Linked DNA regions of Homo sapiens. The protein of the gene in region 1 purifies or fractionates together with the protein of each later gene. This does not show direct contact. Each region holds a gene or a part of one and is shown in the gene's direction. Other genes may lie near its edges. The genes, in order: TTC38 and PFAS.

The links.
Region 2: the proteins of TTC38 (region 1) and PFAS fractionate together in Homo sapiens (co-fractionation; one large-scale study listed by BioGRID). This does not show direct contact.

Annotation. Positions count from the first base shown.
Region 1 is NC_000022.11:46,288,394-46,292,203, forward strand, and holds part of TTC38 (tetratricopeptide repeat protein 38), read left to right. Parts: intron 1-29; coding exon 30-195; intron 196-1,008; coding exon 1,009-1,168; intron 1,169-1,432; coding exon 1,433-1,506; intron 1,507-3,810.
Region 2 is NC_000017.11:8,259,221-8,263,030, forward strand, and holds part of PFAS (phosphoribosylformylglycinamidine synthase), read left to right. Parts: intron 1-3,699; coding exon 3,700-3,773; intron 3,774-3,810. UniProt on the Homo sapiens protein: Phosphoribosylformylglycinamidine synthase involved in the purines biosynthetic pathway. Catalyzes the ATP-dependent conversion of formylglycinamide ribonucleotide (FGAR) and glutamine to yield formylglycinamidine ribonucleotide (FGAM) and glutamate.

The DNA of each region.
Region 1 (3,810 bases):
GGCCCTGGGTCTCCTCCCCATGTCCTCAGGAGTGTCTGTGGGCCAGCGGTGGCAGGATGTCCTGCCTGTGGCCCGGAAGCACAGCCGAGACCACATCCTGCTGTTCAATGACGCACACTTCCTGATGGCATCCCTGGGTGCACACGACCCCCAGACCACACAGGAGCTGCTGACCACCCTGCGGGACGCCAGCGAGTATGCAGAGGGGCCTTCTCGGGGTGGGGGTCCTCACCCTGCCGAGAGGGTGAGGGGGTGCTAGGGCCATGCTGAGACCTGTTCAGTGCCTGCCCCGCCTGTGAGTGCAGCAGGGGGGATGCCCATGGAGGCAGCTCCCAGGTGTGCACCCCTATAGATGTGCATCCCCTGGTGCAGACCCCCAAGGTGTGTACACCCACAGCTGTACAACTGGTTGCCCCAAGACACAGAGCTGCCTCCATCCCCAGGGTGGGTATGAGATCCGCAGGGTCACAGGGCTGCCTCCCGTGGAGAGGACACAGTGAAGCCCTGAAGCCAGAGACACCTGCTGCTTACAGGCCCTGAGGTCCTGGACGAGGTGCTTCTGTGCTCTGAACCTCAGTTTCCCCATCTAAATCAGGGCGATGCCTGGCAAGAGCTGGTGAGGGCTGACCTGGAGGACCTGGGCTGCCCTGCCCATTCCCTTCCGGGGGTGATGATTGCCTTGGCTTGCAGTGCCAGGCCTTTGCCTGTATTATCAGCAATCCTGACGGTTCTGTTAGATTGGCACTGTTATGCCTGCTTACAGATGAGCAAACTGAGGCTGGAAGGTGGGGGACCAGGTAGCTGGAAGTGGGCGAACTCCAACCCAGCTCTGAGCTCAGTACCCTGTCCTGTCCCCTCGATGGGCTGCCCCGCCTGTCACCTCACCTCATCAGTGTGGCATGTGTCAGGCACTGGACCAGGGACACCTCGCTGAGGAAGAAATGGCTCTGCCCTTCCCGGATGTTCTGTGATGGGCAGGCAGCTGAGGGCACCGTCTTGGGTTCGCAGATCCCCAGGGGAGAACTGCCAGCACCTCCTGGCCCGAGACGTGGGGCTGCCCCTGTGCCAGGCCCTGGTGGAGGCTGAGGACGGGAACCCTGACCGCGTCCTGGAGCTGCTCCTGCCCATCCGCTACCGGATCGTCCAGCTCGGTGGGAGCAATGCCCAGGTGAGCCGATGGCCGCCAGCTGGGGTGCCTAGGGCCTGGGCCAGGGAGTCTGGGCGCCCCGCAGCCCCCAAGTTTCTCCCATGGTGTTGGTGCCAACAATGTGGGTGTGAACGTGTCTCTCACACTCCCGCCGTGTAAGTTCGTCGTTGAGGGTGTGGCATCAACACCACTGTCTCCCTGGAGAGCAGGCAGCCCGCGGTGGGCGGGGGCTCGCCTCCCCCATCCTGAGGTACAGGAGACTCACATGCCCGATTGACATTTCAGAGAGACGTCTTCAACCAGCTGCTGATTCACGCGGCCTTAAACTGCACCTCCAGCGTCCATAAGAACGTAGCCCGGTGAGCTCCTGGCCCCTGCCCAGCACTCCCGACCTTCACAGGCTCTCCCTGCAGACCTCAGGAGTGCCTGGAAGCCCCACCACCCTTGGCCCGAGATGCTCCTGCTTCTGAGGCTGTGAGGTCGGGAGGCTGTGGGGAATTTGGTTCTCCTTTGTTAGCAGGCTCAGTGTGACCAAGTGGAGCCAGCCCCACCCCAGGCCCAACCTCCCACCCTTCCCAGCCCACTCCCTTTTAGCCTTGCTAAGCTACCTGGGTACGTAAACACGTCCTGCTCTTTCAGGCTCCTGGGCCTTTGCACGCTTGGAACACCCTTTCTCCTTTTTTGCACCTGGCCGACACCTAATGCTCAGTTAGACCTCAGCTCATTTCACCTGCCTGCCTGTGCTGGGTACCGAGAGGGAGCAGTGAGCAGGCACACCAGTCACTGGCTACCAGGAGCCCATCTGTAGTCGGGGGAGCGACAGGGAGCAATCAGTCCCACAGACACGTAAACTCGCACTGAGGGAGCAGCAGCTGAGGGCAGACCCGAAACCACAGTGGGTTTAGCCAGGCCAGGCATGGGGCTGGTAGGAGGGTGGCGTGGCTGGAGGGTGAGTGTTAGGGTGGCATGGCTGGAGGGTGAGTGTGTTAGGGCAGCGTGGCTGGAGGGTGTTAGGAGGGTGGTGTGGCTGGAGGGTGAGTGTTAGGAGGGTGGCGTGGCTGGAGGGTGAGTGTTAGGAGGGTGGCGTGGCTGGAAGGTGTGTTAGGGTGGCGTGGCTGGAGGGTGAGTGTTAGGAGGGTGGTGTGGCTGGCAGGCGAGTGTCAGGAGGGTGGCATAGCTGGCAGATGAGAGTGCTGGGGGAACTCCAAAGAGCCCTCACCATTGCCAGCAGCCTTGGTGCTTCCATGGCCCAGCTTGCCTCCCTCCACTTAGGCTGCTGAGCTCTTGGCCAGCAGCTGCGTAGCCCGTGTGCCTGAGCGGCGAGTTTGACACCTCTCCTTGCCCATGTCCCTGCCACCCTCAGACATAAGTGAAAGGAAGAATAGAGGAGTCATGGGGTGCCTGGTGGGGAAGGTGTGCTGTGAGAGCAGGTGGCAGCCCGGGTCCACAGGAGGCCCTTGGCTGGTGACAAGCCCAGTGGTTTAGGCGCAGGTGCACCAGCGCAGCTCCCTCCAGGCAGGGTTACCCAAACTGAGCTGTACAGGTTCTGTGGTACTCATGAAACAGGTCTGGCTGGCAGCACTGGAACCGCCTAGAACTGTAAAATGTCTTGGACGCATGCTCCCCGCTTTCCCCTTCCATGGCTGTAGACAAAACCATGCGTGTTTCTTTGGTGGTCAAGCCCCCTGGGGAGCTCAGGCTGTGGTGTGGGTGGGAGTTGGTGCCTCTGGCAGCAGCGGTGGGGAAAGTGGCTGTGTGGACAGGAGGGCTGAGGATGGAGCTGGGGTGACATCTGTGGGGCAGTGCGGCAGTGCCGATGTGGCCTTCTGCGGGGCCCAGTGGGGGAGGGCAGGGGGAGAGCAGGCTGCACAGGGAGCCGACTGCATTAGGAGACGTGGAGGGGGCCTTCTCTCCAAGTCCTGTCCTGCTACCAGGCAGCATCCATGGGGCCATCAGCACAGCTCACCAGCCCCCAAGGTGGGAAACCTTCCACCCACAGCCATGGTGCCCCCCACAATGAGTTCCCGGCCCCAGCCCCTTCACACCACCCACGCCCTCTAGAACCACTGTTTTCAGGTGTTTGGGGGCTGTCTTAGTCAGTTTGGGTTGTTATTTTAAAAGTGCCACAGACAGGCCGGGCACGGTGGCTCATGCCTGTAATCCCAGCACTTTCGGAGGCCAAGGCGGGTGGATCACCTGAGGTCAGGAGTTCAAGACCAGCCTGGCTAATATGGTGAAACTCCGCCTCTACTAAAAATACAAAAAATTAGCCGGGCGTGGTGGTGGGTACCTGTAATCCCGGCTAGTCGGGAGCCTGAGGCAGGAGAATCGCTTGAACCTGGGAGGTGGAGGTTGCAGTGAGCCGAGATCGCGTCATTGCACTCCAGCCTGAGTGACCGAGGGAGATTCTATCTCAAAAAATTAAAAAATAAAAGTGCCACAGTCTGGGCGGCTTGCACAGTAGGCATGCACTGTCTCACAGTTCTGGAGGCTGGAATGTCCAGGAACAAGGCCTGGCTGGGTTCAGTTTCTGCTGAGGCCTCTCTTCCTGGCTTGTGGACAGCCACTTTCTTGCTGTGTCCTCACATGACCTTTCCTTTGAGTGCTAATTCTTTCACGTCTCTTCTTTCTTCTTTCTTTTTAAATTTTTTTATATTTTTAGA
Region 2 (3,810 bases), on another chromosome or scaffold:
TTTTTGTTAATTATTATTATTTTTAATCTGCATTTTCTTTCTCAAGTCAGATTTTTTTTCTCTTTTTAGAGACAGGGTGTTACTTTGTCACCCAGGCTGAAGAACAGTGGTTCTGTCCTAGCTCACTGTGGCCTTGAGCTCCTGGGCTCAAGCAGTTCTCCTGCTTCAGCCTTCCAAAGCACTGGGATTACAGGTGTGAGCCATGGTGCCCAGCCAGAATAAACTTGCTTTATATAAGTAGAATGAGTACATTCTAAAATAACAGTAAAAAGTATAGTTGGTTGGGCACAGTGGCTCACGCCTGTAATCCCAGCACTTTGGGAGGCCAAGGCAGGGGGATTACTTGAGGCCAGGAGTTTGAGACCAGTCTGGGGAATACAGTCAGACCCCTGTCTCTAAAAAAATTAAGAAATAAAACTTAGCTGGATATGGTGGTGTACACCTGTAGTCCCAGCTACCCAGGAGGCTTAGGTGGGAAGATCGCTTGAGCCAAGGAGCTCAAGGCTGTAGTGAGCTATGATCATACCACTGCACTCCAGCATGAGTGACAGAGTGAAACCCTGTCTCCAAAAAAGAATAAAAATAAAAAATAAATGTAGGCTGAGTGTGGTGGCTCACGCCTGTAATCCCAGCACTTTGGGAGGCCATGGTGGGCAGATCACCTGAGGTCAGGAGTTCAAGACCAGCCTGGCCAACATGGTGAAACCCCCTCTCTGCCAAAAATTCAAATATTAGCTGGGTGTGGTGGCGCGCACCTATAATCCCAGCTACTCGGGAGGCTGAGGCAGGAGAATCACTTGAACCTGGGAGGTGGAGGTTGCAGTGAGCCAAGTTTACGCCACTGCACTCCAGTCTGGACGTAAGAGTGAGACTCTGTCTCAAAAAAAAAAAAATTTTTTTTTAAGTGTGGTAAATACATAAACCAGTAATAGTCATTTATTGTCATTATGAAGTATTATGTAGTATACATACAATAATGGTTTGCAGTATACTTTTGTGTGACTGGCAGTATAGTAGGTTTATTTACAATAGCATCACCCACCAGCGTGCCACGATGCCACTAGGCAATAGGAATTTTTCAGCACAATTATAATCTTAAGGGATCACTGTTGTATATGTGGTCTGTTGTTAAGCAAAATGTCATTAGTCAGCCCATGACCAAAATGGAATCATACAATATGCGGCCTTTTGTGTCTGCCTTCTTTCACTTAGCTTAATGTTTTCAGGGGTTATCCGTTGCATCAGTACTTTATTTCTTTTTATGGCTGAATAATATCCCATTATGTAGCTATGTCGCATTTTGTTTACCCATTCCTTAGTTGGTGGACATTGGGGTTGTTTCAGCTTTTTAGCTATTATGCATAATGCTGCTATGAACATTTATGTACAAGTTTTTTTGTTTTGTTTTGGTTTGGTTTTTTTGAGACGGAGTCTCGCTCTGTCGCCCAAGCTGGAGCGTAATGGCGCTTTCTCGGCTCACTGCAAGCCCCGCCTCCCGGGTTCACGCCACTCTCCTGCCTCAGCCTCCCGAGTAGCTGGGACCACAGGTGCCCACCACCACGCCCGGCTAATTTTATGTGTTTTTAGCAGAGACGGGGTTTTGCCGTGTTAGCCAGGGTGGTCTCTATCTCCCGATCTCGTGATCCGCCTGCCTCAGCCTCCCAAAGTGCTGGGATTACAGGCGTGAGCCACCGCGCCCGGCCTATGTACAAGTTTTTGTATGAACATATGTTATAATTTCTCCCAGGTATATAACTAGGGGTGGAATTGCTGGGTCATGTGGTAACTATGTTCAGCTTTTCAAAAAATTGCCAAACTGTTTTCCAAAGCAGCTGTACCATTTTACATTCTCTCTGGCAGTGTGTGAGGGTTCCAGTTTCTCCACATGCTTGACAACACTTGTTAATATCTGTCCTTTTGATTGTAAGGCATAATAGTGGGTATGAAGCAGTATTTCATTGTGGATTTGGTTTGTTTTTCTCTAATGACTAATGATGTTGAGCGTGTTTTCTTTCTTTCTTTTTTTTTTTTGTAGAGACAGAGTCTTGCTCTGTTACTCAGGCTGGAGTGCAATGGCGCAATCTCAGCTCACTGCAACCTCCGCCTCCCGGGTTCAAGCAATTCCCCTGCCTCAGCCTCCCAAATAGCTGGGATTACAGGCACGTGCCACCACACCTAGCTAATTTCTTTTGTATTTTAGTAGAGATGGGGTTTCACCGTGTTGCCCAGGCTGGTCTCAAACTCCTGAGCTCAGGTAATCCACCCGCCTCAGCCTCCCAAAGTGCTAGGATTACAGGCGTGAGCCACCGCACCTGGCCGAGCATGTTTTCGTATGCTAGTTAGCTATGCGTATATCTTCCTTAGAGAAACATCTATTCAGATCCTTTCCTATTTCTTTTTTCTTTTTTGAGATGGGATCTCACTCTGTCACCCAGGCTGGAGTGCAGTGGTGCGATCTCAGCTCACTGCAACCTCCATCTTCCGGGCTCAGGCAATCCTCCCACCTTAGCCTCCTGAGTAGCTGAGACTACAAGCTCCGGCCACCATGCCTGGCTAATTTTTGCATTTTTTGTAAAGATTGGATTTCACTGTGTTAGCCAGGCTGGTCTCGAATTCCTGAGCTCAAGCGATCCGCCCGCCTCAGTCTCCCAAAGTGCTGGGAGTATGGGTGAGTTCTCCCACAGTTTCTACCCTGGAGCCCCCAGGCTTCAGGACCCTTCCGCATCCAGAGGTTGCAGTGAGCCGAGATTGCATCACTGCACTCCAGCCTGGGCAACCGAGCAAGACCCCATCTCAAAAAAAAAAAAAGTTTTTAGTGTATAAGCCTTACTTCTATTGTTAAATTTATTCCTAATTATTTTTATTCTTTTTGATGCTACTGTAAATAGACATAGATATTTTTGCCTTTTTCATTTTTCGCTTAGCAGTATATCTTGGAAATAATTTCATATTGATGAAATCATATTACTTCATTACATTCCTATATTCTCTTTTTTTGGTGGCTTAGTCTTTCATTGTATAGACTTACCATAGTTTACTTAATGAGGTCTCTGTTGTCAGCCTTTAGGTTATTTCATGTACTTGCTAATACAAACGTTACTGTGGTGTTTAATCTTGTAAGTAGGTGATTTTATACCTGTGCAAATAAATCAGCGGGATGACTTCCTCAAAGTGTATTTACCCAATCAGAGACTGTGTGCATTTGTCATTTTGGTTGTTATTGCCAAATCGTCCTCCGTAGTTGATATCAGTTTACTCTCCTATCAACCCAGTCAAGTGGTAAGGCTTCTGGGCTAGGCAGGGTGGCTCACGACTGTAATCCCAACACTTTGGGAGGCCGAGGTGGGCGGATCACCTGAGGTCAGGAGTTTGAGACCAGCCTGGCCAAGATGGTGAAACCCTGTCTCTACTGAAAAAATACAAAAATTAGCCGGGCACGATAGCAGGCGCCTGTAGTCCCAGCTACTCAGGAGGCTGAGGCAGGAATATCGCTTGAACCCAGGAGACGGAGGTTGCAGTGAGCTGAGATCACACCACTGTACTTCAGCCTGGACAACAGAGCGAGACTCCATCTCAAAAAAAAAAAAGCTGGTCAGGCTTCTCCCTAACATCAGCTTCCTCTGTGTTCACGCTGCCTTGCTTTCGAGGCCTCTTCTCGTGGCTTCCCCAGTGTTCTGATTCTGCCTTCCCTTCTTACAGGCATGGAAGTTGTAAAGGTTGGAGGTCCCGTCTACAGGATTGGAGTTGGAGGTGGAGCTGCTTCATCTGTGCAGGTGAGTGGGAATTGCTAAAGGTGCAGAATCCTTGATA